7 linked regions of the Homo sapiens genome follow. The protein of the gene in region 1 purifies or fractionates together with the protein of each later gene. This does not show direct contact. Each region holds a gene or a part of one and is shown on either strand. Other genes may lie near its edges. The genes, in order: PLTP, GALNT7, NMD3, ITPRIP, GLB1L2, POFUT3 and UGT8.

Region 1 (4,111 bases):
GTCTCAAAAAAATTAATTAATTAATTAAATAAAAAAGGAAATGGAACTATTTTTGTGAATCTGTGGATTATATCAGAAAAAAAAGACACAATGGGGAAAGTCCTAGGCAAATCAGGATGAGTTAGTCATCCTTCCTAGATGAGTGTTTGGTGCTAAATACATGCTCAGCAGACATGATTATTGCTTCCCCTTTCTTTCGTCCATTTGGCAACAAAAAGGTGGCAAGCACCCACTCTGTGCCCTGTCCTAGGGTCCGGGAACCCTGTAAGCAGTAGATGGAGGTGGGGGTGGGGGTGGGGGCGGGGATGCTGTTCAGAGCACCTTGCTCCAAGGGTTCATTAAAAAATCCACCAGTGGACCGGGCGCGGTGGCTCATGCCTTTAATCCCAGCACTTTGGGAGGCCGAGGCGGGCGGATCACAAGGTCAGGAGATCGAGACCATCCTGGCTAACACGGTGAAACCCCGTCTCTACTAAAAATACAAAAAAAATTAGCCGGGCGTGGCAGCGTGCGCCTGTAGCCCCAGCTGCTGGGGAGGCTGAGGCAGGAGAATGGCGTGAACCCGGGAGGCGGGGCTTGCAGGGAGCCGAGATCGCGCCACTGCACTCCAGCCTGGGGGACAGAGCGAGACTCCGTCTCAAAAAATAAAAATAAAAAAAATAGAAAAAACAATCCACCAGCCACGATAAATGGCAGACCTCCTTCTGATTTCAGCCGGTGTGGTATGTTCCTGGGCTGACAGCACTTGTCTAGTCTTGCTTTCCCAAGTGGGAAAGGTCTCTGGGACCTTAAGGTCCCCAGGTGGTGACACAGAGACAGGTAGGGGGGCCCATAGCAAAGCCAGGCAAGGAGGTCCCGAGATGATTGTGGGTGGCAGGGAAAGAAAAAATATTCCTTGACTTTGTGCCTGGACCTGGTTGTAATAAAGGCCCAAGAGGTAGTTCCTATCATCGTGCACATTTCGCTGAAGGAAGAAACTGAGGGTCAGTGACCCAAGTGAAGTGACTTGCCCAAGATCATGCAGGAAGACATGGATAATTGTAATTTGAACCAAGGTCCCAGCAAAGTGGGATTGTTGGGGCTGAGTGGGCCGGCTCCTGCATTTCCTTCCCTCTCCCTGGGCTTGGGTCTCCCACTTGTCCAGACAGCGGCCGGGCTTGTCACGGGGCTCTGTGCAGCCTTTTCCACTCTCCCGGCTGCCAGCGTCCCGCCCCGTCCCCTCCCAGCCCCCAAGGGAGGAGGGGAGAGCTGCAGAGAGGAGGAGGGGTCGGGGAGGCCGGCTTTATAAAGGCGGCTGGAACAACCCTGCCCGCCAGACCCCGTCGCCCGGATCCCCTGAGCTGCCCGCCATCCCACGTGACCGCGCCGCCCCCCAGCTCCACCGCTGAGTGAGTTGGGGCGCGTCCCTATCCCGTTCCCAGTCCCTCGCCGAGCCGCGTGGTGCACTGAAGCCGGCGTGGGGAGGAGAGCCGATGAAGGAGAACGCTAACATGGGGGCTCCAGGCAGAATCTCTAATGGGAGAGATTTAGGACCTGAGGGAGCCGGGAGACCCGGGAGCCCACGGTCTGGTCGGCCACCTCCTCTCCTCCCCGGGCGCGAGGCCTAGGAGACCGCAAGCCACCCTCCAAGAATGCGCGTGCAGTCGTTGCCGTGGCAACGTGCAAGCCTGCATGGGCCCACCGCTAAAGGAAAGGGGAGGTTGTTGGGGGTGTGGGGGCTGGTCCCCTGGAGGTCCAAACTCATCACGCGGCGGTAGCACGAGGGAACTGGGAACGTCCCCTCCCCCGTGTCCCAAATCCTCTGGGAGCCAGAACGCAAGTCGCATCGCCTCTCTGAGCCTCAGTTTCCACATCTGCCATATGGAGGCAAGATTATTGGTTCCAAGTTCCCCGAAGAGTTATCTGGAGGGTAACGATCCAGGCTAGTTCCCACTTATGGTTGGACGTCCAAGGAATGGGTTTAAGCGGCTCAGATAACTCCTGCGACCCCACCCCACCCCCAGGCCCGCTCGCCATGGCCCTCTTCGGGGCCCTCTTCCTAGCGCTGCTGGCAGGCGCACATGCAGAGTTCCCAGGCTGCAAGATCCGCGTCACCTCCAAGGCGCTGGAGCTGGGTAAGGCGCAGGGGCAGACAGGGACGGACGGGAGCGGACGGGGTTGGGGTCGCCCCAACAGTGGGCACGGGAGCTAAGTAAGGGTTTCTCTGCTGCTTCAGTGAAGCAGGAGGGGCTGCGCTTTCTGGAGCAAGAGCTGGAGACTATCACCATTCCGGACCTGCGGGGCAAAGAAGGCCACTTCTACTACAACATCTCTGAGTAAGTGGGGGGCGGGGCCTCGCGATCCGGGGCGGGGCCTCGGCGGTGGAGGCGGGGCCCGAGAAATCTCAGGGTCTCGGGAGACTGGAGGCTGAGTGGGATGGGGCGTGGCCAAATCGATGAGGCAAGACTTAAGAAACCGGATGGGGCCGAAAAGATAAAGGCCAAGCCAGTCATCATAGGCGGGACCAGGCAGATGGGCGTGGCCTTGAAAATGTAGAGGGGGCCAAGAAGGAAGCAGGACCAGTGGATGTGAGGCGTGGTCGAAGAACAACAGAAAGGTGGAGTCAAGGAACTTCCCAATAGATGAGAGTGGAGTCTCGGGCACGGGGTGGAGTTAATCGGAGGGGTGGAGAAACTGAAGGCTCTAAGTATGGTTTAGGATGAGGGAGGGGGAATAAGGAATTGAGATGTGAGACGGAGCTTAGGTGATGGAGGCAAAGTGAACGGACTCTATTAAAAGACCGGGTGTAGCAACCCCAGGGTGTGGGAGGGGAGGGGGTGCAAGCAAACAAGACTTTTTTTTTTTTTTTTTCTGAGAGGGAGTCTTGTTCTGTTGCCCAGGCTAGAGTGCAGTGGCGCGATCTTGGCTCACTGCAACCTCCGCATCCCGAGTTCAAGCGATTTTCCTGCCTCAGCCTCCCGAGTAGCTAGGACTACAGGCGCGTGCCACCACGGTCTGCTAAGTTTTGTATTTTTGGTAGAGACGGGTTTCACTATGTTGGCCAGACTGGTCTCGAACTCCTGACCTCAAGTGATCCGCCCTCCTCGGCCTCCTAAAGTGCTGGGATTACAGGCATGAGCCACCACCGCACCTGGCAAACAAACAAACAAGACTTTTAAGCGATGGGGTGAAGCTCATTTTTAACACCTGGATCAGGAAGACCTCCTCTCTCAGCCACCCAAGTTCAACTTTGAGCCACCCAAGTCTAAGTTGGGCACTTGAGGGACAATGGAAGAATTCATTCCACCCACTCCCGCTTCCCCAGGCCTGGACTTGAAAGGGGAGCAGACAAATTTCCTGTCGTTGGGGGAAGTTCCCTCTTCTTGGCCCTGGATCTGACCCTGAGGCCTCCTGTAGGGTGAAGGTCACAGAGCTGCAACTGACATCTTCCGAGCTCGATTTCCAGCCACAGCAGGAGCTGATGCTTCAAATCACCAATGCCTCCTTGGGGCTGCGCTTCCGGAGACAGCTGCTCTACTGGTTCTTGTAAGGACCCAGCACCCTCAGGGGAGTGGAGAGTGGGTCAGGAGGGCTGGAGGTGCTGTGGGGCTGTGGGCAGCCCCCTTAGCCTTCCTGAGTTTCCGTTTCTTCATCTGTGTAACAGAAACAGGCATATGCATTTCATACGAGTTGATAGGAAGGTTTGGTAGGATGTGTGGAAAGAGGTGAAACCTTATTAAGAGGTATGGTGATGCATGGGGGCACTGAAGACTCAATTGAGCTCCTACCTGGAGTGAATATTAACCCCCCTGGCAGCTATGATGGGGGCTACATCAACGCCTCAGCTGAGGGTGTGTCCATCCGCACTGGTCTGGAGCTCTCCCGGGATCCCGCTGGACGGATGAAAGTGTCCAATGTCTCCTGCCAGGCCTCTGTCTCCAGAATGCACGCGGCCTTCGGGGGAACCTTCAAGTAAGCCCCAGCCCCAACCCCAGCTCACCCTTTTCGAGCCCCACAGCTCATCTGCCTAGCGCAATGCAAAGTGCATAGGCCTGGGAATCAGACCAACTGGGTCCAAAGCTCAGCTCTGTCACTTCCTGGCTGTGTGAACGTGGCCAAGTCACTGAAGCTT
Region 2 (2,828 bases), on another chromosome or scaffold:
AATTTTAGTAATACAAGAAAGTCAGTGTTCTGTGAGGCAGTCATCACCATTGCTCTCATCAAAATCTGATTTTTGAAATGTAAATGAATCATTCATTAAAGTAAAATATATTTAAATATATTTATACTATTAAAAATTTGGTTAATATTTGATATTGTCCAGCAGGTGGAGATAGAGACAAACAAATAAAACTTGAAATCTAGGCTTTCATAACGTCTTTATCATTGTTGTGTGCTAAATACAGTGGGATAAATGTAGCTAGTTGCTTACTTTAATGGTCAAATTTAGTTATTCACGTGACACTGCTGGGGTAGCTTTGTGTTTCAGCTGTGAGTATTTAAAGCTCTGTGGCAAGTTGAGGATTACAACATATTAATAGATTTATGTATAGTTTTCAAATTCTAGATTTGGCTAACATAAATCAATTTATTATTAAACAAAAAGTGGGGAAAGCTGCCTCACACTAAAAAAATCTGTCAACCCTCCATTTTATTTACTCACCCAGTATTTGTTATCATATCCCATCTGTCATGCAAGCAAGGACTTGTTTGCTATGTAATAATGATATGACCTAGCTTAACATTCCCTGTTACTGTCATTTACAGATAATTTCCAGGAAGTGATAAGCACGTATCAATTGATGATTTTGTTTCTTATAACAAGTTAGGAAGGAGAAGAATAGCATAAACCTTAAAGAGTGGAGCATTTATTTTCACAAAAAAAAAGGATATATAATAGCAATAAATAGTAGGGGTCAGTGAGAACAATATTAGCAAAATAGTAAAAGAGGGCTAACACACCAGAAACTACATCAAGAAGTAATTGAACAAAAAATGACACATAACATGTTTTAGGTATTTTAAAGACGCAGCACTGAATATACATTTGTGTGTTAGATATTACTGAACATTCACTTGGGGACCAATAATATGTTAGACTGTAGGGGAGTTCAAAAATATAGCTAAAGCACGCTATTATATAATGGCAGAGAAGAAAGAAATGCAAAAATAGAGATAAGCAAAATGCCATAGGACAGAAAAGAGTGATTCATGGGAGGAATTACTGCTGAGGAGTTTCATAGAGGAAGTGTCATTGCACAAGTCCTGAAGTGTAAAAAGGCTTTCCATGGAAAGTAAATAAGAAAGCCTGGATGAGCAAAGATGTGGCATGAAAACATGTAGAAAATTCAAAGAATTGTATTTCATTTGGTATCCCTCAATTGTGCTTTGGAGGAAAGAGCACCGAACTTCATTTTTTAAGTTTTGGAGAGGGATAGACCTTATTTGAGGAAGGTAGTGATGGAAAACAATGGCTACTTTTAGGAAAATAATTCTGGAAACGTGAGGTATGGACTGATGAAGCAACGAGATCAGCTTGAGCAGCAGTTCTCAAACTTTCTGTCCTCTGGATTCCCTTTACACTCTTAAAAATTTTTGAGCTCCCCCACCCCCAAATTGCTTTTGTTTATATAGGTTATCACTAGCAATATTTCCAGAACTGGAAAGTGTCTGAGAAATTTGTAAAGTTTTTATATATTAATTCATCTAAAAGTAATAATAATATACTTATTAAACATTAATGTAAATGACATTTTTAATGAAAAATAACTATGTTTACCCACAAAAAATAGTGAGAAGAATGGAATTCTGTATTTTTGCAAATCTCTTTAATGTCTGGTTTAATAGAAGAAGACAGCTGGATTCTCATACTCCTGCTTCATTTGGTCTGATCTGAAATGTTGTTTTCGTTCAAGTATATGAGGGAAACCCAGCCCCACACAAGCATACAGTTTGTAAAGGGAGCGAGTACTTTAATAGCCGTTCATATAATTGTGGCTGTTTTTTTATTGTACACCACAACTTAATAATTAAGTGGTAGTTTCTTAAAAGTTATTTCCAGTGTAGACTGATATCCTTGAGCATTGTACCTCATTATATGGAAGTACTTGATACGTACTTCCCACTTCATCTCATAGAATTTTTTTTAAGTATACTGAGGGGTCAAGACTGAATAAAACGAATGTTTTGCTCCTTCATCAGTGACATCCTTAAGTGAAACCGGCATTTACTTTTCAACTGTGTGTGGCCATGAGCAATACAACTATAGGTACTAGCATAGTTTGATTCATGCTAAGGCACCATCAGTTTTACTCACCATTGCTTTTGCACTATCGGTATAAATGTTGCTAAAGTGAAAAGGCAATGGTGTCTTCGTATTATGATGAAAATAGTTTCGGCCTTACAGACCCAATCCTGGATAGTCTGAGGACCAGACTTTGAGAAGCTCTGAGCTATATTGAAGAAACCTACAGCATATGGTGAGGGCCAAACCAGGGCATCTGCAGTGGCGATGGGAAGGAATATAAACCAGAGACATTGCACATATCCATCCTTAGTGACTGGTATGTGAGTGAATGAGGAAAAGTGCAGTATTTCCTAAGGACTAGAGAGCTGGGAATGTCATTAGCCAGGATAGGAACAAGAGACATAGATTTGGAGGGGCAGATAATGAATTTAGGTTTGTATACATTGAGTGTGAGATACCAGCAGTATATTGTGACTTAACAATGAAAGATCTTAGGACTTAGAAAACTGACAATCAAGAGAAATCCAGAAAACTGACAATCAAGAGAAATCCAAAGTCTGAGGTGTGGTTGAGAAGCTTTTCCATTTCCTTAAACTGTCTCCTCATGAAAGTCAAGTGATGATTTCTGATGTCAGTGATATCAAGGGTCCAAATTTGAAACTTTTTTCTTACTGTGTTTTCCAGAACCTGCACAGATTTACTCATATTCCTTCAGGAAAGTGTTTAGATCGCTCAGAGGTCCT
Region 3 (3,500 bases), on another chromosome or scaffold:
TTATATATATTCTTTTTATGAAAAGTAAAAATATCTTTTTGCTTTAAAAAGACAGAATTTAATTTTTTTCCTTTGTTATTTATCGAGAATCTCATGTATAATTTTTTAACGGAAATTTTTATGTAAAACCATCACTAAACATAATTGGGATTATAATATTAGGGCTATGTTATTTGGTTTCTTTTTATTGTCATTATTGATCTGGAAATAAAATATTTGTGCCTGTCACTGAAAGTCAGTGCATAAATGTATTAAAAAAAATAGTTTGTTTAAAGTACAGTTTATTTCCTGATATAAAATTGAAAGTGATTGACACTATGAGTTTTCTTTATTTTAAGCTTTATGACTCACTTCTACCATGTTTTTAATTGAAATTGACTCTTTCAGATTGAAGACTTTTCTGATTCTCCTTTAAGCTCTAATAAAATTTCATGTAATAGTTCTTTGAAATTTCTGCCTTTATTTTCCTACTAGGTCCCAGCCAACCCCACAAATTTCTGATGGTCACTTTTTGGCGCTTCTGGCATAAAACTTTGTCTTTTTCCCTTCATATTTTAAAAAACCTTTTTGGTTTTTTTCGCTCCCCTCTGTTCTTGGTGATTTTTACTTTATCTTCTAATCTTTCTAATGAATTGTTTTTTTCCAGTAGTAATGTTTTTAAGTTCCAGAGTCTTTCATGTTCTTGATGCATTTTTTTTAAGTTTTTCTGAAGATTTTGATAATAGGACTTTTTTTGTTTCTTTCTGTTCCCTCATTTGTCTCTGTTTTTTTATGAAGTCAGTTTTTTGTGTGTCTTGGTTTTTTGCTTTTATACTTGGGGTTTTTGTCAAATGTCTAGTGAGTCTTAACAGTTCATTAATTAATTCATCAGATGTTTATTAAGTACCAACTCTGTGCCAAACTGCTTTTGGTGTTGGGGATATGGCAGTGAATAAGGCAATCCCTGTCTTAGAAAGCGTGTATTCTAATTGCACACTAACATGCCAGTGTGGAGCAGCATGTTAGTATGCAGCGATCAAAATAGGTGGATATATTACATGGTATATTAAAAGGTATATTCTGTGGAGAAAGGAGCTAGGAAGAGGATAAGAACTGTGCATGGAAGAGTTGAAATTTAAAGTAAGGGTGTTTAGGGGAGGGCTCACTGATAGGGTGACATTTGAGTAAACACTAAAGATTACAGTAAGGGAGGAAGCTGTGCAGAAATGTGGAGGAAGAGCATTAGGGGTAAAGAAAACAAATGTAGAGACCAAAAGCAAGAGCATACTTGTGTGAATAGAACGGAGTGGTGAGGGGAAAAGTAGTTGGGGATAGAGTCCAGAAAAGTCATGGAAGGCCACAGTGTGTCTGGCCTTGTAGGCCCTTATAGGGGCTGTTTCTTACTCTGAGTGTAAGGAGTATAGAGGGTGAAGGGCAGAGTAGTGAGATGACATGACTTATTAGTATTCCTCTGGCTGCTGTTTTTAGAATGGTTGTAAGGGAGGTAAAGGTGTTTAAGTTTTTGTAATAATCATGAGAAATGGTTTTGGATCAGCAATGGAGGTGGTAAGAAGTGGACAGATTTTGGATCTATTTTTAAGGTAGTAACATTTACTGATGTAGCTGGATGTGTTTTTGTAAGAGACAGAAGAGTTAAGGATGCCTTCCACTGTTCGTGACCTGAGCAGCCAAGTCACTGGGTAGGGGGCATGAGAGTTCATCTGTAACTGGTATTTAGATGTCTACTAGACACTTAAGTAGAAATACTGAGTAGGCAGGTTGATAAATAAGCCAATGAGTGGTCCAGTCTAGAGATAATGAATTTAGGATATAGATAGTATTTAAGGTCATGAATTGGATTAGATTATTTCAGGAGTTTACATAGAGAAGGAAAGAAACTGGAGGACTGAATCCTGGAATCATTCCTTTAATGGGTAATGATGAAGAAATAATTGGGTAATGAGGAGGAATCAGCAAAGGAGACTGAAAGGAGCTGCTAGGAGGTAGGAGGAAAACAGGGTGAGTGTGATGTCCTGGGAGGAAAGGGAAGTGTTTTAAGAAGAAAGGAGTGAGTAGCTATGTGATTTGCAGCTGATGAGTCAAGTAATGAGTTCTGTAGATTTAGTAATGTGGACGACCTTAATAACATGGGCAATTTCTGTTTAGTGGTGGTGGTAAAGATGTCATTTAAATAGAAATTAAAATGGGAGAAGGAAGATAGACAGTTCTTTTGAGATTTGCTGTAAACGAAAACAAAGAAATGGGGCAGTGGTTGAAGGGGAAGTTGGGGAAGGGACACTTGTCTTTTTATGTTATTTTATTTTTTGGAGATAAGGTCTTGCTTTATTGCTCAGGCTAGAGTGCAGTGGCGCTGTCATGTCTCACTGCAGCCTCAAACTCCTGGGCTCAGGTGATCCTTCTGCCTCAGCCTCCTAAGTAGTTGGTACTACAAACATGCACCACCACACCTGGCTGATTTTTATTTTTACTAGAGGTGAGATCTCTCTCTTTCTCTCTCTTTTTGGCCCTGTAGAGCAGAGATCTCACAATATACCCAGACTGGTGTTGAACTCCTGAGCTCAAGCGATCCTCCTGCCTCAGCTTCCCAAAGTGTTGGGATTACAAGCATGAGCCACTGTGCTTGGCCAGGATACATTTCTTAAGATGGTATATATAACTGTATTTGTAAGCTCTCTGGGAGTGTTAGAGTACGGAGGGAAATTTTTGTGAAATTGCAGGGAGAAGAATAATTGGCTGGGGGGTGGCCTCAATAAGTGGAAAAGAGATATAGTACATAGTGAAAGAATACATTTATTTGTTAATTCACTCCTTCATTCAACAAGTATTCAGCACTTACTCTTCACCAAGCACCATTTTGGGAGGCTGTAATATTTCATGGAACAAAGTAAAGATCTCTGCTCTCTAGAGGGGCATTCTGGAGGTTGATCTTGATGGGAGTATGGATAATTCATCTGTGGTAACAGCAGGGAAGGTGTTGAGTGGGAGCTTCTGGGAATTCTCCTCTGGTTCCTTCTTTTGTACTGGAGAAAACAGAAGCGTGGGCAGTAGCTATGTGGGAAGAGCTGTTAGATAGATGTTTGAGGAGAGAGCGGAAGATATGAAATAGTCCTCTAGAACTAGAGGAAATGCACCAGGACAGTGTTGGATGGGTGCTGGGCAGTGCTGAGGGTTACTGTTACAAGTTTAGACTAGTCACTGTGGTGTGCATCTATTTCTGTAGTTCTGTCAGCCACATAGTCAAGGCATAGAGCAGGCAGAGCACTGGATTTAACCAAATTTATAATTTAGCCTAGTGGCTAAGGTGAAATAAGAGAGGGAACAAGGAAATTGAGTGTGTACATGAGAATAATTTTGATTATTGATTTTGAAGCTAGTGAGGAGGAATGAGGAATAAAGTTGGTAGGATGAATGGATTGTCCATTATATTAGCTTGAAAGATATTTGGTGCCCAGGAACTAGAGGAAATAAGCTGGAAAGATGGGAGGTGGTAGTCAGGGAGT
Region 4 (4,122 bases), on another chromosome or scaffold:
ACTGGCCCCCAAAATTCTGCCATAACCTCTTACGTAAGGAAAGAATTTGAGCAGCAGTAGAAACTTGAAAACAAAAGTACCCTGGGCCAAGGGCCAGGGAGTCTATTTTTAGAACATTTTCTCATTGCCTGTTTATCTTTCAGACTCAGCCAAAAAGTCTTCCAGGCGAGTGTTAAAGGAAAAGACGAAAAAAAGGTGATCTAAGACCAAATAGCAGTAGCAATGGTGATCATTTTGGACACTGTGTTCCAATTTCCCCAATGTGCCTTCACTGGCATTTGGTGCCCCCAAAGCCGCTTAATGGAGAATTCATTCAAACCCTGCTCTGCCTTTTGTACTGATGGTAGGATTTGGGCAGGTCAAAGGGAAGACAATAGAAGTTATGGATTTCATAAACTATTAAGCTCGACCAGAACGCTGCTGCTGCTCCTCCAGGCCTCAGTTCTCTCGTTTCTAACATAGGGGTAGTAACACTTGATCTACCGTCACAACAGTAACCAGAAACTACCGCGCCTGTCCCGTACAGTATCCGGTCACTGTTCTCCTTTGTGCCCGGTTAATCCCGGAGAAAAGCAACCATGCATTTGATTATCATAAAAGTCGGGCGCGGTGGCTCACGCCTGTAATCCCAGGCGCTTCGGAAGGCCGAGAAGGGAGTTCGAGACCAGCCTGACCAACATGGAGAAACACCTTCTCTACTAAAAATACAAAATTAGCCGGGCGTGGTGGCACATGCCTGTAATCCCAGCTACTCGGGAGGCTGAGGCAGGAGAATCGCTCGAACCCGGGAGGCGGAGGTTGCGGTGAGCCGAGATAGCGCCACCATTGCACTCCAGCCTGGGCAACAAGAGCGAAACTCCTTCTCAAAAAAAAAAAAAAACGGTAGTAAGCTATTTTAATCCTTTCAAGCTGCAAAAGAGAAAAAGGCTGGCGTTTTGTCTAGAGTTATATTTTCCTCCAAGAGACTAAATAGGTGGCCCCAGGAATTCCGCCACTTGTAAAACGCGCCGCAGAAAACTCTCCCCGACTGGTAAGGACTTAACCCCTTCCGCTCCGCGGCTTAGGACGACTTTTAAGGGCGTCCTCCCCGCGCCCCTGTCCACTCGCTCCAGTTTACTCCACTGGCCTGATTCCGTCTCTCCCAGTCACTCTCCAGTTCTGCCGTGCCGGGGAAGTTTCTGGGGGCTCACTGGGAAGGTCTTCCCGGCGGATCCTGGGCCCAACCACCGAAACCCACACGGTCCTCCTTAAGGAGCTTCCGGGGCCGCGGGTAGAGGCGGGTGTTTTGTTCTTATAAGGAGGAAAAAGTTTTTGTGACATCCAGGAAATGAGTAACTCTGAAGTTCAGTAGAGCCGGCCGCTGCAGGCCAGAAGGTGGGAGCCAGCGGGGGCATCGCCGCCCGCGCCCCTCTAAGTGCCGGGCCGCAAGCTCCACCGCAGCCGCCTGCAAGCAGCGGCGCCTCGGCCCTCGACCTGCGCGCAAAGCCTGTGCTGGAGCCGTCCTCCCGCGGCGGGGACCGGGACCGGGGACCCAAGCCAATCGTAAGTCCCAGGGCAGCCTAGTGTGCTGAAGGAAGAAGGGCGCGATGGAGAGCGCGAGCTCGGAGGAGCTGTGTCGGAGATGGCTGCCGACAGAGGGGGCGCAGGAGGGTGTGGGGAGCGCGGGCGCCTGCTCCTCCCGGGTGGGGGCTGACTTTGGAGACCCCCTTCCCTTAAAGCGCGCGTGCCCAGGCGGGCGTATTGTCTCCTCGCGGTCCCGCATCCTGTTCCCGCCGCGTCGGGGGATGCGTCCCGGGCGCTCGCTCCAGCCAGGGCTGCGGGCAGCTCCTCCTCGAGGCGCGCGCAGCCTCGGAGCCCAGAGCGGGACCACATTTTTGTTCCTAGTGGCCAGGTGACCCGTTACTTCTCACATCTGAGCAGAGCGCTACCGAAGAAAGAAAAGCCGGTTCGCCCTGCTCATTTGCTGCCCCCTTTTCCCCTTCCCCTTCCCTCCCTTCCTGTAAGGGAGGAATAGGCGTGAAGTTTTTTTTTCTCGGTTCATGGTAGTGAAGTTATGGGGCTGCTTCAGGCCGGATAAAATCCCCGCCGCTTCCTCTTTCGGGACTATTAGTGGGCCAGACCTCACGCTGTGCAGACTTGCTCTTGGGCTGCAAATAACTCTCTGCCCCTTCACCCCTAACCCCACCCTCAACCCCATCCCTGTGACTTTGCCATTCTGGCCGCCTGGTGAAGACTCCCGGGGCGGGACTCCCCATCCAAAACGCTTTCTCTTAAAAAAAGAAAAAGAAAAAGAAAAAAAAAGCCACCGACCAGGAAGGTAAAATATTTTACGGAACCAGGCAGGGGCCTCATTTTGCCTTTTGCCCCTCTGCTGGTATGAGAAAAGCACCCTTTCACAACTAGTAGAGTACCAGATACTGGTCTCATTTCACAAACAGTAGAGTACCAGATATTGGTCGCAATCTGGACTCTGGTCTTTTGGATCTAAATCGGGGTCGCGGTCTATTTTCTTGTTCTTTTTTTGGATATGACCCAGTGCTCTTGCCTTTTACAAACCGAGTCTATCTGACTGCCAGCTAAAGTTCATCTGTGGTTGGTGCAGTTTTAGGCCCAGGTGAGCCCTGAAAATAGAGTATCAGAAAAGTGGATTACTGTCTTTCCTCCTTACGAAAACAGAATAGGCTGTGTTTTTGAGTCCTCCCTCCAGCCCTCGTGCCTAAGTGGCTTTCATTGTTTGCTAATTCCCTGTATGTTGCGGCTGCTCTGGGCCATTCTGCCTTCGGATTTTCTCCACTTGTGGGTAACCATGAAGTAGTTATACTGACTCTCTGCTCTCCCTGGGTGCATTCTTCTCATGCTCAGTAAATCTACATTTTACGTAAGATAAAGTAAGCATGTGAAATTATAGCTATCTGTTTGGCAACAAAAGGAATGCAGTTTTGTTTTCGGTTTTGTTTTTTGCATGACTGAGTTCCCAAGCTTAACTTTTCCCTTTGGCATCCTGAGCTTGGGGTCCTAAGGTTGTATTTTCCTTTCACAGCTATCAGCAGAGACAGGTAGCCATCAACAGTTAGGAAAGAGTCTGGGCTGGGTGGCTGCCTGTCTTCCCAGAGCTTTGGGAGGCTGAGGTGGGAGGATTGCTTGAACCCAGGAGTTCCAGGCTTAGAGCTGGGATCACTTGGTTGGGATCACTTGGTTGGAGCTAGGATCGTGCCACTGCACTCCATCCGGGTGACAGAGTTCAGACCCTGTCTTTAACCTACCCCCCAATGCCCCGCTGCCCCCCCCCCCCCAAAAAAAAATAACTGGGCAGGAGAAGGTGCTTTCAGAGTCCAAGACTCAGGTTCCATGTTTCGAGTTGAGAGTCTGCCCCAGTAGGGTTGAGGTGGCACGGCAGCCTGTGGGGCTTTAATGGAGAATCTGCTTGGAAGGGGTGGGTGCTCCAAGTGTTCTGGGAGCTGAGAAGCAGGACTTTATTATGGATGACACCAGGCCATCCTGGACCCTTCTCTCATCCAGTCTTGCTGGGGAGGGGTACAGAGCCAGGAGGATGCTGAGAACTGTTCATGATAACCTCCAGGGCTGCTGCTAGCCTATTCAGTCCTTCGCATGAATTAGAATAAGGTGCTCTGTCTTGGCAAGAGGATGGGGCTTGATGCCTCTTAGAAATACTGGCCTTACTTGAGTGGACATAGCCAAGCCATATAGCTGGATAAGTGGCATGTGAGCTGGATTTATCCTCACCCCTCAGCCAGGTGCCTTAAGCAGTACACTGCCTGGTCCACCATTCACACAGCAGCCCTGATAAACAACCACTATTGAGGGCTTAACATTCGCCAGGCTTTTTTTTTTTTTCCCCAAAAGTACTTAGCCTGTATTAACTCATTTAATCCTCACAGTAGCCGTATGAGTTAGGTATTGTTAACTCCATTTTACAGATGAGGAAACTGAGGCACAGGGATGTTAAGTGTTCCAGAGCCTGGAAGGTGAGTCTTAATCACTGGGCATTCATAGACCAAGAAGCAACTTAAGCTTAAAAAGCTAGTTTAATTGGGAACCCTCGTGGGAAAGGGGGAAGAACAGTTGCCTTTTTCTTTCTCTGTCAAAGGAGGAAATACCCAT
Region 5 (3,500 bases), on another chromosome or scaffold:
TACCTGTCCACTCTCCGCTTGTATTTGTGAGACGTATCAGGAAGGACAGGACAGAGATGCTTGTGTTCACTTAGCCCTGTGCATCCTGCGGACTTTGAGTTCAGCCTGCTCAGTTTCAGACTGGCCTCCTGTCTTCAAAGGGCTTCTGGCTTGAGGGGAGGGGTCTGGGTGGAGGGTCCCACCCAGTGGGCTGCTGGAGGGCAGGGACAGGGCAGAGCTATGGTATGGTGTCAGGGAGACCCAGGTGTGCAGTCCCGCTCTGCCGCTACCTGAGGCCAATTATTGTGACCTAGAGGCAAGTTATTTCACTTCCCCGGAGCCCCAGCTGTCGCTTGCGTTCCTTCACTGGCAATCAGAGGCTTTCGTCCTGCAGCAGAGCATCAGGGTGGCCTGGCTTGCCAGGCTGGCTCAGCCTCTCTGGTGTGTGCCTAGGCTGTGCCTGTGAACTGACTGTTAGGCAGATAGCAGGCAGGTGAGGGGCCCCAGGATAAGGCTGTGCCACTGGGGTGGGCGTGGGCATGCCCGGGTGTCAGCCAAACAGAGCGCACCTTTCTTGAGCATATGTTTCACTGATAGAAAGCCACTGAAAATAGCATTTTAAATTTTAAACGGAACATGTTATGGGGTAGAATACAGAATTAGCCCTTATCAAGAAATCAGAGAGGAATCTTTGTTTACATCATTACCTTGGACCGGATGCTTGGGGTGCCAAGGAAGGATCAGGCTCTGGTTCGTACAAAAGAACAAGGAACAGAGTGCATGCTCGGCTTGTAGAAGTCACAGTTGATTGAGATCAGGTGCACAGCGAGTGACTGCCTCTCAGCTCTGTGCTGCTGTGGCGGAGTCTCCAAGACAACAAGATAAGTCTCCTGGCGTCCTGGCTGACTTATTTATTTATTTATTTTTGTGAGACACAGTCTCACTCTGTCACCCAGGCTAGGGTGCAATGGCACAATCTCAGTTCACTGCAACTTCTGCCTCTTGGGTTCAAGTGATCCTCCCACCTCAGCCTCCCAAGTAGTTGGGATTACAGGCATGCACCACCAACCCTGGCTAATTTTTTTGTGTATTTTAGTAGAGAGGGGGTTTCACCATGCTGGCCAGGCTGGTCTCGAACTCCTGGCCTCAAGTGATCCACCTGCCTTAGCCTCCCAAAGTGTTGGGGTTACAGGTGTGAGCCACCGCGCCTGACTGTGGCTGACTTCTAACTGGAGGTGGGAAACGGTGTCAGGGCCGCTTACTTTATTGTGCTGGTGGATTGAGAAGGGTCTGGGGTCACCTAGAAGGTCCCTGGCTTTGAGACAGTGCTTTGTCTCTCTCTCTCCTCTTCCCTTTAACAGTCTTGGCCACCATCAACTTGCAGTCAACACACGAGCTGCAGCTACTGACCACCTTTCTCTTCAACGTCCAGGTAAGTCCAGCCCCAGGGAAGCTGCGGCCCGCCCTGCTCAGCGGCCTATGGGAATTCTGAATGCCTGTCAGCGTGCTCAGCTTCCCCAGCGCAGGGAGCTGGACTCAGGGCTGATGGCCTCTGGCCCCCCGCCCATGCCACTGTGTGCCTGCAAGGCCCGCTGCCCAGAAACACCTCTGAGGGCTGCTGTGTAGGCTGATGCAGTGTGGACATCACCCACTGCCCTGAGAGAGGGGCCCTTTTGGTGCACTCCTAGAGGACTCGACTTTTGTGGCCTCAACTAGCTCCAGACTTGCTCCCAGGGATTGAGGGGGGAAGGAAAAACTTCCCTGTCCTATACTACACAGGCATCCGACCTTAACCTGTGAGGCCCCTGCAATCCTAGAAAGATTATTGTCATCAGCAAGGCAGAAAGCCTGGTCCACTCCAGGTGCGGAGAGAGGGAGGAGTTTCCAGATGTCCCTCAATATCTGTCAGACTGATGGGCATTTATGCCACCCTGTAGTTCTGACTGGCCTCTTTCTCGAGCTCGCGTGCCCCTCCGAAGCAGGTGGATGGACAGGGCCATGCTGCAGCCCTCTGCAGACCTGAGAGGCCCCAGCTGTCCCCTGGCTCACTGAGGGGCGTGGATGCTCCAGACTGCCCCCACGCTGCATCGTCACACTGGTCCTGGGCCTGGAGTGGAGTTGTGCTTGGATGGACAGGCATGGATGGCTGTGGAGACGCTGGGCTGCTTTCCATTCCGGCTGATGGCCTTTCAGAGCAGGGGCTGTGTCCTCAGGCACATCTGCGTGGAGCCACCACAGCCGTGTGGGGCCGTGTGTGTGTTTGATGTGGCTTCTCCTGGAGTTCAGCTGCCAGAGTAGGCGAGGAGGCTCCCAGGAGGAGGTGGGAGGGCTGGCCCCGCTCCCAGGCAGGCTCCTGTGACGCAGATCAGGCGCGATCCAGCTGGGTCTCTGCCTTCCTTTCTTGGCATTTCCTGAGTGCCTGCCCATGTGTGCAGTGGAGTGGGGGGTGCCTCTCATACTTGTGACTGAGATGACAGGGTCTCCTGCCCTGTGCTGTGTGACCTTGGGCAAGTTACTTAACCTCTCTGTGCGTCTCTCTTCTTCTAAGTGGGGATGATGAGAGTACATTTCCTTATGGTGTCAACTCACAGGGTTGTTTGAAGATTAAATGAGGTAATATTTGGAAAGTGCCTAGCACAGCAGCTGATACAGCAGAATGCCTTATGTTTAGCCTTCAAGGTCATCCTTAGAGGGGTAGCCACGCGCGAGCCTTCCCAGGCCAGCTGTCCTGCTAACAGAATGGCCCTGCTGAAGGGCTTTATGTGCGCAGTCCAGAGATGTCTGTTTTCCTGAAGGAAGGGGACTTGGACACCTCCCTGTTTAAATCAAGGGCTCTCTGAATGCACAGCACAGGCCTCCAGGTGTGCTCCATGTGGCGATGTCCGATAGCACCTCACTCGTCCTCTGTGTCCATGACCCGTGATGGACAGAACTATGCAAGTGTTTCTTGAGCACCTCCTACCTGCCAGGAACAGTGTGCTAAGGGTGTTATGTGCACTCTCCCGTTTAATTCTCCCAATAGTCATATGAGCCAGTGAAGGAGACAGCTATAGAGTGTATAAGACACCCTGTAAGTAGTGGCTTGGGGACTGCAGAACAGTCTCACTACAGAGCTCCAGCTCTTAGCCAGTTGTGCAGTGCAGTGGCCTGGCCCATGGGTGGACACCCACCTCCGCAGCTCTGGTACCCTCAAGCCAACAACCTTGCTTCTGGCATGGGAGATTTCTGACTTGTGGGACTTTGAATCTGCTTCTCCCTTTTTAGTGATTTAAACGTGGTATGGTATGTCTCCTTCTTGGAAGGTAGGTGGCTTGTAAAGAAAACCAAGCCGCCAGTCTTGCTAGAAGAATTCTTGTAACTACTTTGGCTTTAACCCGGGTATGGCTGGTACCTTCTACTCAATGGACCGTGAGTTTGTCCCATCCCCCTGGATCAGATTTTGTTGCTGTGTATGCGGTATCCCTCTAAACATAAGGCTATCACTGACCTAGAGATACTTGACAAGCTGTCACTGAATAAGT
Region 6 (3,500 bases), on another chromosome or scaffold:
AATAAACCATGTAGTACACTATCATTTTCCCCCTTACATATACAGTTTTTTGTTTCTTTCCCAGGTAATAATTGCATCTTTATTTGATTATTTTTCCATGTACCTGTCAGTCATTCAGTCTTTGTTGATTGTTTAACTCTCCTCTGAAGATGTTGAGATATGGCAGGCATCCAGCTCTCTTGATCTTATGGAAGGGATCTCTCCCGGAGCCTCTGACCCACTCCTATCTGTGCTCATTGTCCTCTACCTTAGTGTGGAGCAGCAGCCTGAGATGTCACTTCCCCAGCATTTTGGGAATTTTCTTTCTTTTCTTTTTTTCTCTTCTGTTGACATCTGTTTCCTGCATGCTATGTCTCCTGTTTTCTTAGTTTATTCTCTTGTTTTGGTTGATCATACTCTCCAGTCGCTTCCTGAGAAGAGGTACATGCAAGAATGTGTGAAAATGTCTTCATTTCAGCTGAGCACGGTGGCTCGTGCCTGTACTCCCAGCACTTTGGGAGGCTGAGGCAGGTGGATCACCTGAGGTCAGGATTTCAAGACCAACCTGGACAACATGGTGAAACCCCGTCTCTACTAAAAATAAAAAAAAATAAAAAAAATTAGCTGGACATAGTGGCAGGCACCTGTAATCTCAGCTACTTGGGAGGCTGAGGCAGGAGAATCACTGGAACCCAGGAGGTGGAGGTTGCAGGTTGCAGTGAGCTGAGATCATGCCACTGCACTCCAGCCTGGGAGACAAAGCGAGATTCTGTCTCAAAAAAAAAAAAAGAAAAGAAAAGAAAAAAAAGAAAATGTCTTCATTCTACCCTAAATTTAAGCAATAGGTTAGCTGACTGTAAACCACTAAAATGGACATTCATTTTTCTCAGAATTTTGAAGGTATTTTGCCATTGTCTTTTACTAAAAACACTTTTAATTTTTTTTACAGAATATTTTAAAGATAGTTCAGAGTTCTGTATGCCTTTTCCCTGGCTTCCCCTCATGCTATCATTTTATGTAACTGTGGTACATTTGTCACCAATAAGAAATTCATATTGGCACATTACTGCTTGCTAAACTGCAGAGTCTAGTCATATTTCTCTTTAGTCATATTTGGCCATATTTCTGTAACATCCTCTGTCTGCGCTAGGATCAAATTCGGGATACCAGGCTGTAATTAAACCATCACGTTTCATTAGTCTCCTCCAGTCTGGACAGTTGCTCAAGCTTTTTCTTATTTTTAATAACTTTTGAAGAGTACTGGTCAGTATTTTGTAGAATGTCCCTTCATACGGTTTGTCTAATGTCTTCTCATGTTAACACTTGGGTTATGGATTATGGGGAATAATACCACAGAGGTAAACGTGTTCTCATTGCATCCTATTAGGGCAGCTGTTCCTAACCTTTTTGGCACCAGAGACCTATTTTGTGGGAGACAATTTTTCCACAGACCGGTAGGTGGGTGGGGGATTAGATGTTTATAAGGAGTGAGCAAGCTGGATTCCTCACATGTGCAGTTCACAATAAGGTTCACCCTCTTAGGAGAATCTAATGTTGCTGATGATCTGACAGGAGGCAGAGCTCAGACGGCAATGCTCACATGCATGCTGCTCACCTCCTGCTCTGCAGCCCGGTTCCTAACAGGCCAGGGAACAGTACTGGTTCATGACCCGGGAGTTGAGGACCCCTGTATCAGGGGATGCATTATACCAACATAACGTATAACTGGTAATGTTAACTTTGATTGCTTGGTTCAGGTGGTATGTGCTAGGTTTTCCCACTGTGAAGTTGCTAATTTTCCTATTCTTCTATGTTTTGTTACTCTTCTGCCCTCTTCCATTCTCCCAATTCTTACAGGTTAATGCCTTTCAAGAACAGTCCTTTTACTCTCATTTTAATGGTGTTTCTGGAGGAAATGAAATTGGATATGTGTGTTCACTCTGTTATCCTGGAGTTTTTCTGTCTCTCCTCTTTCTCTTTTACTTTTCTTTTTCTTTTCTCCCTTTCTCCCTTCTAAATTATTGGAAGGTCAAATCCTGAACATGTAGGCCATTTTAAGGACTTGGACTTGAACTTGGAATGAGAAGGGCTGCCGAGTGTAGCCTGCAGAGGATCAGAAGTGGAATCAAGGGGTTAGTTAGGAGACCATGGAAATAAGCCAAGACTGAGCGTGGACCAAGCTCATTGCAGCATTTTGAAGCTGGGAGGTATTATGCCAATGTCAGGTACCATTATTGTTGGGTGGAAACATCTTAGTACTGGGGACAGTTGAGTGCAGTGGAAATATATTAAAAACAGGGATTAGTTGTAATATGTGACAACATAGATAGATGTAAAAACAGTGCTTGGTGAAAAGTAGCAAACAAATGAGACATACAATAACATATAAGTATATTAAAAATAAATGCCCAGAGATTGAGAACACATTTTGCAATGAGTATTCGAATACGCTTACATGCAAATACAAAGAACTGTGTTAAACATCTTAAAATATTTGCCTATGGGGAGGAGGATAGGGGTGGGATAATAGGGGGAAAAGGAATAAACAAATCAACAGATAAATAACCAGAGGGAGGGGAAGGCTTTAGAATCTAAAGAGAACTATATTCGATCTTAAGTATATACTGTTTGGGGCAATTTATGTAACTTTTTTGTGGTTTAGTTTCCACTCCTGTAAAATGGGGTAGTAGCACCTATTCAATATGCTTACCATAAGAATTAAGTGAGGCAATATGTGAGATGCTTTCTTTCCCCTTTAGCTCCATGGAGTAAAGCTGTTGTTTTAAGGAAAGTCTGTTGCTTTAAGGGAATTGTGCTTCATTATCATATGTTTTTAATTCATTTCTCTTTTCTCTTCCTGCAGGGCTTACCACCCAAAAGATGGGAGGCAGAAGATACCCACCTGAGTTGCCCAGAGCCCACAGTGTTTGCTTTCTCACCACTCCGGACTCCACCTTTGAGCTCTTTGCGAGAGATGTGGATTTCCAGCTTTGAACAATCCAAGAAAGAAGCCCAGGCACTAAGGTGGCTGGTTGATAGGAATCAAAACTTTTCATCTCAAGAGTTTTGGGGCCTAGTATTCAAGGACTGATTTCAAAAATGATCAGAATGAAACAGACTAGAGCCTTCTTGAGGTTTATTTTCTAGGTTGCCTTAATATTTGAACATAATAGCTATTCTGTTGACTATCCATCAGGATAATAATTAGTTGCTGCAGTACTCATAATGAGCCCTTTCAAGGAATAGATGTAAATTACCCTTAGGGGTAGCCACTATATTTTTTATACTAAAAAAGGAAATATTTCTTATGGACACTGGTTATCTTCCATGTCCGTGTCTGTGGACCCACATACTTACTGCCTTTTGTGGAAATTCACCTAGAGTGAGTACTTTCCTTGTGCAATGGAGGGAGACGATCTAGCTATAGATTCTTGATACTCACCTCACTCTCAACAGCTTATTGGTATTTGGCAAACCTGGTATCCTGCAGCCGAGCATGAACATGAAATACATTAGAACTT
Region 7 (3,500 bases), on another chromosome or scaffold:
TGTTGTGACAGTAACACAGGAAGGCCCAGAAAGTAGCTGCGTAGAACACATGATTCACATATAGCAGCTTAATTGTTAATTGCCCTGGTATCTTACACTGGGCATAGATTAGGTTTTCCAGATGTCTGTAAATGATTTTACAGTGGGACTGAATTTCACAACCTGGGATGAAAGGGCAGAGAAAATTTATAAAGGACATTTTAAATAAGCTTTCACAATGTTTGATCCTAAAGAAATCCTGTAGAGAGCATATAGTTCGGCTCCATTCCTTTTATTTATTCTTTCCTTTAAAGTAGGTAGAATAGAGATAGGGAATAGTCCATCCATTTCTCACATAGTAGATACAAAGACTTCATCAAAAGCCACACAGATAGTCTGTGGCAAAGTCAGGTGTAATGTGGATTGTTTTGCTATTTATTAGGTGTTTTTTCAAGGTGATTGCATCTCTTGTCACTAATTTTAGTCATTTACTTACTTACAATTGTGTATAAAACCATGCAGAGACAGCAGTTTTTTGAATCTTATTTATTTTATGTCTCTCAAAGATTGTCAGGGCTTAATACTCAAGTCAAATGAAACCATATGGACTCTTATTTATGCTTTAGAGATTTGATAAACTAAATCAGCCTAAGTTCAAATGCTTTTGATTACAAAATGTTGTGTCAGTGTAGAGTGAAGAAATTGTGTGCCTTGATAGTAGAAATCATTTTAAAATCCATGTTAGAAATGTGCCTGGAAAGACAACTTATCATCTACTACCTGGCTGCCTCTAATAGGAGTCTTTAAACAATGTGGACTAAGGGGAAGAATTCTGAGTTGGATCACATTCATATAGTGGTTTACCTACTCTATCATTGCAGGCCAGTAGAGAACATGGATAAAGATTAAAAAATAAAAATGCTTTGATCAAGAAGGAGGTCTGTAGACAGGTCCCTATTTGAATAGATTCTTTTTTTTTTTTTTTTTTTGAGATGGAATCTCTTGCTCTGTCACCCAGGCTGGAGTGCAGTGGCATGATCTCAGCTCACTACAACCTCTGCCTCCCAGGTTCAAGTGATTCTCCTGCCTCAGCCTCCCAGGTAGCTGGGACTACAGACTAGTGCTACCATACCCAGCTAATTTTTCGTATTTTTAGTAGAGATGGAGTTTCACCGTGTTAGCCAGGATGGTCTCGATCTCCTGACCTTGTGATCTGCCCGTCTCGGCCTCCCAAAGTGCTGGGATTACAGGTGTGAGCCACCGCGCCTGGCCAAATAGATCCTTTAAATATTAAATGTGAATGAAATAATGACATCTAATTGGAAAGTGATTTTAATTTTTATTAATTTTATTAGCAGATAATCCACCAAAGAATAGTACATGTTTACTTAGGGAATCTAATAGTTATTAAAAATAAATGTTTCAAGTGATACTTTTTAGATGATTTCCCATTGGCTGAAATGGCCTACGCTGCCAGGCAGTTGCTCTCTGCCACTTTTCAACTTCTACAGCCTTGAACTCTTATAGCACCTAATAGCACTTTAACTACTGTTTGCTGTTGTTGTACTGTTTTTGTTGTTGTTTGTTTGTTTTACATGGCTCTCTTAACTAGAATGTGAGTACCTCAAAAGGTTGATACTCTATAACCTGAGTGCCTGAAAAATGGTTGGTACTCAATAAAACTTTAATATTTAATGAACTGTATCAAATAGAAATAGTTGCCAAAAATAGGTGATTCAGTTAGTGCAACAATGTTAATATTATAACTATCATCTGTTTGTTCTAAATTTGTGTCTGTATACTGTCCTAGCCATTAAGCAACCCAAAAATCCATGCTAAGTTGTTGAGTTTTTTTTTTAATTTTTATTTTTTGAGATGGAGTCTCACTCTGTCACCCAGGCTGAAGTGCAGTGGCATGATCTTGGCTCACTGTAGCCTCTGCCTCTTGGGTTCAAGCAATTCTCCTGCCTCACCCTCCCAAGTAGCTGGGATTAGAGGTGTATGTCACCACGCCTAGTTAATTTTTATATTTTCAGTAGAGACAGGGTTTCGATATGTTGGCCAGGATGGTCTCAAACTCCTGACCTCAAGTGATTCAGCCACCTTGGCTTCTCAAAGTGCTGGGATTACAGGCATGAGCCACTGCCCCAGCTGGTACTAAGTTATTTTAATGAATTAGAATAACTATTCTAATGTTACTGATAGTGAGGAAAGAAGATAACCATACCATTACCCAATTGTGAACTAAAATAGTCTTTTCTCTCTTCCAAATATGCATATAAACAGGGGCAGTGCTGAAAGTCAGGCCAGCTATTGCTGTCTTGAAAGATGATTTGAGGCAGCATGGCACTCATTTGGTGCTCTTCAGAGATACTATATTTCCACATTAGGAGTATTTATGGCATCTTAAGTTCACCAGTTGTGGAGACATTTTTATTTAAGGAAGCATAGTCTTGGGGAGAGATAAGAGATAAACAGAGATAAGAAAGCACATGGGACCAGGGACTAGACCAGGAGATATTCACTGTTTGTCATTTTGTTATTTGCTGGAACTCCCTCAGAGAATGATCTTGGGGACAATGAGAGATTGAGCAACAGAGTTATTAGATTAGCCACTTGTGAGCAGGTAAGTTTATGAGAAGAAAAATGAAATGAAGAAACAAAATAGTGACTTTCCATACTTGGTATTCCTGATTAACATAGAAGCCATTACTTCCTATTACATATGGTGATTGAAAGCTGGTTTCACCATTAATGAATGAAGTCTCTAGGCTTGGATATGAGACCAGGGTCCTTGGGGGTAAAAGACTTGATCCAGGGTTGCAGCAGATGTGGAAAATTAAGGCCATTTTTATTAATAATTACATATGCAATTTGTTATCTTATGAAATTTAAAGCTGGAGATGTAAAGCTTCATCTATATAGTAGTACTATGCTATGTTGTTAGCTATGTGGGGGTCAGAAAATTGAGGATGACAATGTTTAGAAGAGACTAATAATTTCATTCCAGTTACTAATTCTGAGTTCAGAAATGTTAGTACTTTAACTACTGTTTGTTTGTTTGTTGGATGGCTCTCTTAACTAGAATGTGAGTACCTCAAAAGGTTGGTACTCTATACCCTGAATGCCTGAAAAGTGGTTGGCACTCAATAAAAGTTTAATATTTAATGAACTGTTAAATGATAGTTTGGCAGAAAAAATAAATTCTCTAAGGGAACTCATTAATGTAAAATGTTTTTGCAGATGCTTTATAGGTTAATCATGTATTTTCTTATTATTTTGTAGTAAGAAACCAAATTTATAGTAAGTAACCAAATTTCTTGTTAAAGAAATCTATCCAGGAAGTAAGTAAATCAAGCACTGTTGAAACTATCAATGACTTAACTGTTCAGTTCACTGATACAAAAATTTTCTAAGCAACATTGTAGTTTTTAATAGCTTGTCATCTGCTTCTGTAAGCATTATGGGCTTACAAGGATTTCCTGATATGATAGGAGATCCAATATATGAACGGAATCAAA

What was found.
Region 2: the proteins of PLTP (region 1) and GALNT7 purify together in Homo sapiens (affinity purification with mass spectrometry; 2 studies listed by BioGRID and IntAct, with this or other methods). This does not show direct contact.
Region 3: the proteins of PLTP (region 1) and NMD3 purify together in Homo sapiens (affinity purification with mass spectrometry; 2 studies listed by BioGRID and IntAct, with this or other methods). This does not show direct contact.
Region 4: the proteins of PLTP (region 1) and ITPRIP purify together in Homo sapiens (affinity purification with mass spectrometry; 2 studies listed by BioGRID and IntAct, with this or other methods). This does not show direct contact.
Region 5: the proteins of PLTP (region 1) and GLB1L2 purify together in Homo sapiens (affinity purification with mass spectrometry; 3 studies listed by BioGRID and IntAct, with this or other methods). This does not show direct contact.
Region 6: the proteins of PLTP (region 1) and POFUT3 purify together in Homo sapiens (affinity purification with mass spectrometry; 2 studies listed by BioGRID and IntAct, with this or other methods). This does not show direct contact.
Region 7: the proteins of PLTP (region 1) and UGT8 purify together in Homo sapiens (affinity purification with mass spectrometry; 3 studies listed by BioGRID and IntAct, with this or other methods). This does not show direct contact.

Annotation. Positions count from the first base shown.
Region 1 is NC_000020.11:45,909,356-45,913,466, reverse strand, and holds the start of PLTP (phospholipid transfer protein isoform a precursor), read left to right. Parts: upstream 1-1,311; 5' UTR 1,312-1,388; intron 1,389-2,003; 5' UTR 2,004-2,014; coding exon 2,015-2,114; intron 2,115-2,215; coding exon 2,216-2,315; intron 2,316-2,472; exon of another isoform or gene 2,473-2,596; intron 2,597-3,396; coding exon 3,397-3,525; intron 3,526-3,795; coding exon 3,796-3,951; intron 3,952-4,111. UniProt on the Homo sapiens protein: Mediates the transfer of phospholipids and free cholesterol from triglyceride-rich lipoproteins (low density lipoproteins or LDL and very low density lipoproteins or VLDL) into high-density lipoproteins (HDL) as well as the exchange of phospholipids between triglyceride-rich lipoproteins themselves.
Region 2 is NC_000004.12:173,318,811-173,321,638, forward strand, and holds part of GALNT7 (N-acetylgalactosaminyltransferase 7), read left to right. Parts: intron 1-2,769; coding exon 2,770-2,828. UniProt on the Homo sapiens protein: Glycopeptide transferase involved in O-linked oligosaccharide biosynthesis, which catalyzes the transfer of an N-acetyl-D-galactosamine residue to an already glycosylated peptide.
Region 3 is NC_000003.12:161,227,811-161,231,310, forward strand, and holds part of NMD3 (60S ribosomal export protein NMD3), read left to right. Parts: intron 1-3,500. UniProt on the Homo sapiens protein: Acts as an adapter for the XPO1/CRM1-mediated export of the 60S ribosomal subunit.
Region 4 is NC_000010.11:104,335,666-104,339,787, reverse strand, and holds the start of ITPRIP (inositol 1,4,5-trisphosphate receptor-interacting protein precursor), read left to right. Parts: upstream 1-1,322; 5' UTR 1,323-1,542; intron 1,543-4,122. UniProt on the Homo sapiens protein: Enhances Ca(2+)-mediated inhibition of inositol 1,4,5-triphosphate receptor (ITPR) Ca(2+) release.
Region 5 is NC_000011.10:134,362,988-134,366,487, forward strand, and holds part of GLB1L2 (beta-galactosidase-1-like protein 2 isoform b precursor), read left to right. Parts: intron 1-1,340; coding exon 1,341-1,411; intron 1,412-3,500.
Region 6 is NC_000008.11:33,372,147-33,375,646, reverse strand, and holds part of POFUT3 (GDP-fucose protein O-fucosyltransferase 3), read left to right. Parts: intron 1-2,842; coding exon 2,843-3,070; 3' UTR 3,071-3,435; coding exon of another isoform or gene 3,436-3,500. UniProt on the Homo sapiens protein: Protein O-fucosyltransferase that specifically catalyzes O-fucosylation of serine or threonine residues in EMI domains of target proteins, such as MMRN1, MMRN2 and EMID1. Attaches fucose through an O-glycosidic linkage.
Region 7 is NC_000004.12:114,626,307-114,629,806, forward strand, and holds part of UGT8 (2-hydroxyacylsphingosine 1-beta-galactosyltransferase precursor), read left to right. Parts: intron 1-3,500. UniProt on the Homo sapiens protein: Catalyzes the transfer of galactose to ceramide, a key enzymatic step in the biosynthesis of galactocerebrosides, which are abundant sphingolipids of the myelin membrane of the central nervous system and peripheral nervous system.